Regions from separate parts of the Homo sapiens genome. Here region 2 is linked to region 1. The links come from fine-mapping of genetic effects on gene expression. A gene starts in region 1. The other region holds a variant in brackets. All regions are shown on one strand. Distances are between the middles of the regions.

Region 1 (2,916 bases):
TGTGTGTATTTCTGCACAAGTTTCCTAGGAGTAAAATTGTGTGTCAAAATGAAGGTGCATTTTTAAATTTTGATGCATACTGCTGAATTCCCCCCAGGAAACCTTATCTTAGTCATCTTGTGTTCCTCATTTCCTTAGCACAATGTCTGGTACTTTTTTAGGTACTAAATAAATGTTCAGTGGGTGAAATGCATGACCTGACCCGGCAAATGCAAAGTATTTTGAGATATTCACACACCAAAAAACCCACAAAATATGACAATGACTGACAATGAGAAGATGAGAATATTTTACTACCGTATTTGTATGCACTTCTTGTTGAAGCACTGACCAGAGTAAATGACAAACGCTAATGCATCTTATGCAGAAGGATGTTTCCGAAGTGATTACAAGATATCTTGCAAAATTACCTATCAAAAGATTGCACACTCAATAAAAATACACGAATAACTCCAGCATTTTACAACCCCCAACCTACTAGACATAAGAAATTTCCAGAGATCTTATGGTCTGCCATTTTTTCAAATACCTGCAAGACTGCCTGCACCCCCGACCCTAATCTGTAGAAATCATGATTCTGCAGGTCTGCAGTGGGGGATGCATTTAACAAGCGCTCCAGGTTAACCTAATGCACTGTAAAGCGTGAGAACACGTGCATTAAAAGGGCTTTAAGAAGTGGAGTTTCTGAATCAGATTTGCATTTTAGAAAGATCCCTCTGGCTGCAGAGTGTAGAATCAACTATAAGTGAGCAAAGATAGCTAAATGGCATTATTCAGCCCAGCGCATGAACGGCTCAGATTGCCCGCGCGCTGGGGTGCCCCCTGCCGGCCCTCGGCAGCGCCTCGTCCTGGGCCTGGCCCTGGGCGGCCGGCTGCTGACTGCGACTGCGCGCTCCGAGGCCTGCAGAGACGGCCCGGGGCACCTGTTACCGCACCGCTCAAGACCGGAAGCGGAAATGGAATCGAGATAGCCTCGCGCGTTTAGCTGGCCGCCGCCACCTCCACGCCCTAGGCCGGGCCGACTTACGGAGTCGCCGGAAGCGGAAGTCGCTGAGGGGTGGTGAAGCGGTTGGGAAAGTGTCGGTTTATCTTCGCGCCCCTTGCGTTCTTGCCGCGGCTTGCCTGGGCAGGTAAAGCGCGATTGCGAGAGCTCGGCAACCCTGCCGACTCAGCCGGAACCGGCTCCCGGCCCGAGGGGCGTGGTGTCCTGGTGCTCCGACTCCTTCCGCAGGCTCCTTGGGACCCGCGGTTCCGGGAGTCCCTTGCTCAGGGTCCCTTTCCTGCAGTGAGGCGCCGTCCGCCTTCCCTGTGTCCCCGCAGACCCCCATCATGGGCAATACCAGCAGTGAGCGCGCCGCGCTGGAGCGGCATGGTGGCCATAAGACGCCCCGGAGGGACAGCTCGGGGGGCACCAAGGACGGGGACAGGCCCAAGATCCTGATGGACAGCCCCGAAGACGCCGACCTCTTCCACTCCGAGGAAATCAAGGTGCGAGCGGTGTGGAGGAACCCGATTCCCCTTGACTAATGTTGAGGAGAGGAACCCTCCACTAGATTCCCGTCACATCCTTTCGAAAAACACCAGAACGGAGAGGGAGGTGGTACATTACCCGGTGCACTTAAAAGCCAGATGGTCCTGTAAGAGTTCTCTTAGCGGTCCAAGAACCTGTGTCTAATTACCAATATGAGAAAGTCACCCTGAGGGAGGAGGTGCTCACTTGGTTTAACATCATTAAGGAGAAAGCAGCTCTGGGACAGAGTTTCAAATTCTTAATTAATTCAGAGTCGAGCTAACAGTAATTGAGCCCCAGCTTCTGCTTTTCTCTTAGGTGTAATTAATTGCACTGCTTTGAGACAAATTCCCTCACCTTTACACAAACTGGAGCTTTTGTAAAAGTTAGTTTGGGAATTTATCCATTTTGGAGGCAAACCAGGTACATATACAAGCTGAAAGTAGAGCGGAACAGCTGACGGCAGTTGCCAGAGGTGTTTAGTTCTGCCCAACACTTTTGATTCACCCTACTTATTTTTTAAAAGACGGTGGTCTCACTAATTAGCCGGGCGTGGTGGCGGGCGCCTGTGGTCCCAGCTACTCGGGAGGCTGAGGCAGGAGAATGGCGTGAACCCGGGAGGCGCAGCTTGCAGTGAGCCGAGGTCGCGCCACTGCACTCCAGCCTGGGCGACAGAGCTAGACTTCGTCTCAAAAAAAAAATATAAATAAAAATAAAAAAGACGGTGGTCTCACAATGTTCTCCAGGCTGGTCTCGAACTCCCGGGTTCAAGCAATCTTTATGCCTTGGCCTCCCAAAGTGCTGGGATCGCAGGCGTGAGCTACGGTGCTGGCCGGTTCAGCCTACTTTTTTTTTTTTTTGAGACCGAGTCTCGCTCTGTCGCCCAGGCTGGAGTGCAGTGGCGCGATCTCGGCTCACTGCAAGCTCCGCCTCCTAGGTTCACGCCATTCTCCTGCCTCAGCCTCCCGAGTAGCTGGGACGACAGGCACCCGCCACCACGCCCGGCTAATTTTTTATATTTTTAGTAGAGACGGGGTTTCACCGTGTTAGCCAGGATGGTCTCCATCTCCTGACCTCAGGAGATCCGCCTGCCTCGGCCTCCCAAAGTGCTGGGATTACAGGCGTGAGCCACTGAACCCACCCTACTTATTTTTTTTTTTTCCTTCTTTGAGATGGAGTCTCACTCTGTTGCCCAGGCTGGAGGGCAGTAGCACAATCTCGGGGCACTGCAACCTTCGTCTCCCGGACTCAAACCATCCTGCCTCAGCCTCCCGAGTAGCTGGGACTACAGGCGTGTGCCACCATGCCTGGCTAATTTTGTGTATTTTTGGTAGAGGTGGGGTTTCGCCATGTTGCCCAGGTTGGTCTTGAACTCCTGACCTCAAGTGATCCGCCCGCCTGGGCCG
Region 2 (2,916 bases), 98 kb before region 1:
AGTATTCCCTTTAGAGGAGGGAACAAAAGAAGGGTGCTCATTCTCACTTCTTCCATTCAAAATTGTACTGGATACCCCAGCCAATGCAATAATACGAGATGAATTAAACCAAGGTAGAATGATTAAAATATGGCAACAAAATGAATTATTTGCAATGAATGTGATTATTCACATAGAAACTGCAAAGACTCTATAAATTATTAGAATAAATTAGGCAATTTAGCAAGGTAATTGAATATAATAGTGATATAAAATTTAACTGTATTTATCTGCATCAACAACAAACAGAAATATAACATTTAAAATACTCAACAGGCCAGGCACAGTGTCTCACGCCTGTAATCCCAGTACTTTGGGAGGCCAAGACGGGCGGATCACTTGAGGTCAGGAGTTCGAGACCAGCCTGGCCAACACGGTGAAACTGCATCTCTACTAAAAATACAAAAATTAGCTGGGCTTGAACCCAGGAGGCAGAGGTTGCAGTGAGCCGAGATCATGCCACTGCACTCCAGCCTGGGTGACAGAGCGAGACTCCTTCTTAAAAAATAATAAATAATAAAATAAAATACTCAATGATGATGGCAAAATAAACTGGTAGCCAGAAATACAGATATTTTAAAAATAAGCAGAGCCTCAAGTGGAAAATTATACAACTATACAACTCCCTTGAAAGACATTAAAGACATATTTATATCAAGAAAGACATTTCTCCCCAAATTGATTATATAAATATTCAGGCAATTTCAAATGAAATTCTAATAAAGTTTTTTGTGAAACTTGAAAAGCTAATTCCAAAAGAGAAAAAAGCCAAAGACAGCCACGACATTTTTTGGAAAAGAAAAAGAAATCAAGACTTACCTTAGAAAACTATAGCAATTAAGATAGTACTTTATTGGTGCAAAAATATTAAAAATAGTTTAATTAAACAGAGTAGAGAGTGCAGACACAGTACTAGACATACGACAAAAGAAATATCACAGGTCACTAGGAAAAGTATACCCCTACTCTATAAACACCACTAGGACAATAAGCTATCTGTAAAAAAATTTTTTTTAATTTGATTTCTACTTCACACTATTAAAAAATACAGCTCCAAATGGATTAAAGACTTAAATGTGAGACCGGGCATGGTGGCTCACACCTGTAATCCCAGCATTTTGAGAGACCGAGGCAGGTGGATCACTTGAGGTCAGGAGTTCAAGACCAGCCTGGCCAACATGGCCAAACCCCATCTCTACTAAAAATACAACAATTAGCTGGGCTTGGTGGTGTGCACCTGTAATCCCAGCTACTCAGGAGACTGAGGCAGGAGAATCACTTGAACTCATGAGGCGGAGGATGTAGTGAGCTGAGATCACACTACTGCACTCCAGCCTGGATGATGAGACTCCGTCTCAAAAAAAAAAAAAAAAAAAAAGACTTAAATGTGAAAATAAAAGTCTAAATTTTTGAAGAAAATATGAATGACCTTGAGTTTAATAAAGGATTTCTAAACGAGTTATCATAAAGGAAAACTGAGTTCTATGCTCAGATATATTTGGCAATATAAAAACTTCTACTTACAACGTCATAAACAGGGGACTT[C/A]ACTTCTGGTTCTGATGAACTAGCCTGTATCAGAATGTTCCTGGCAAAAGCAATTTGAAAAGATTAATAAATGCCCAAAAAATCTATCTGAAGGCATTGCAAAGATATCAAAGCAGCCAGGGCTTAAGAGGTTAAAGTTCTCTGAGCCCGCCGAGGTTAGTCTGACATTCTATGCCATCTTCTGCCAATTTGTCAATAGCACCAAGCTAAGAAACTGAGAAGAAAGTGGATATAAGAGGTTGAGCTGTTTAGCAAAGCTTTCCACCATCACAACAGTACTGGAGAAGCAAAATAAGAGCTCAGGATCTAACAAGGAGAAAGGTCACAGGTTGCATTAGTCTGTTTTCACACTGCTATAAAGAACTACCCGAGACCGGGTAATTTATAAAGGAAAGAGATTTAATTGATTCACAGTTCCGAGTGGCTGGGGAGGCCTCAGGAAACTTACAATCACGGTAGAAGGTAAAGGAGAAGCAAAGGCACATCTTACGTGGCAGCAGGAGAGAGAAGTGAGAGCACAGGAAAAACTGCTGCTTTTAAAACCATCAGATCTTGTGAGAATTTCCTCACTATCACAAGAACAGTATGGGGGAAACTGCCCCGTGATCCAATCACTTCCCCTCCTCCACACGTGAGGATTACAGTTCGAGATGGGATTTGGGTGGGGACACAGAGCCAAACCATATAACAGGAAAGCACACCCAGGCTTTCACTTGAATTTCAATGAAAGGGCTGTCCCTTTCACTGAAAAGGGCTATACGCCAAAAGTGAGGGCAAACCAGAAATAAGACGCCAAAAGTGAGGGCAAACCAGAAATAAGACAAACCTCATGAAGACTGAACCCAGTGATGTGCCAGAGCTGGCTCATATCAACTTCTGAGGAGCCAGTTGTTAAATTTACATTAATTCTGTGAACCACCTGTTAAATGCAGCCATTATTTAAAATGATTATATGAACTTACAATTAAATAAATTATATTTAAAACAAAGATGATGACCAGGCACTATGGCTCCTGCCTGTAATCCCACCACCTTGGGAGGCGAACGTGGGTGGATCGCTTGAGTTCTAGACCAGCCTGGCTGACATGGTGAAACTCTGTCTCTACTAAAAATACAAAAATTAACCAAGTGTGGTGACGCATACCTGTAATCCCAGCTACTCAGGAAGCGGAGGTGGGAGGATCACTTGAGCCTGGGAGGCAGAGTTTGCAGTGAGCTAAGATTGTGCCACTGCACTCCAGCCTGGGCAACAGAGTGAGACTCCCACTCAAAAATAAATAAATAAATAAATAAAACAAAGATAATAAAAATTCAATGTTTTCCAATTATTTT

Evidence for each region. PIP is the estimated chance that this variant, and not a neighbour inherited with it, causes the effect.
Region 2: its variant is fine-mapped to the expression of PRKAB1-AS1 in skeletal muscle (GTEx, PIP above 0.99).

What each region holds. Positions count from the first base shown.
Region 1 is chr12:119,666,916-119,669,831 of GRCh38, forward strand. It overlaps PRKAB1-AS1 (PRKAB1, TMEM233 and CCDC60 antisense RNA 1), which reads right to left and starts at 1,212. Exons shown (of 3, transcript NR_188494.1): 1 at 1,028-1,212. It overlaps PRKAB1 (protein kinase AMP-activated non-catalytic subunit beta 1), which reads left to right and starts at 1,218. Exons shown (of 7, transcript NM_006253.5): 1 at 1,218-1,488. The coding sequence starts at 1,330. RefSeq lists a silencer at 695-964 and enhancers at 1,065-1,474, 1,913-2,548.
Region 2 is chr12:119,568,704-119,571,619 of GRCh38, forward strand. All of the region lies in intron 1 of PRKAB1-AS1 (PRKAB1, TMEM233 and CCDC60 antisense RNA 1), which reads right to left. Among named protein-coding and RNA genes, the nearest start is that of TMEM233, 24 kb to the right of the region's middle. The variant C/A (reference allele first, on the strand shown) is at 1,585.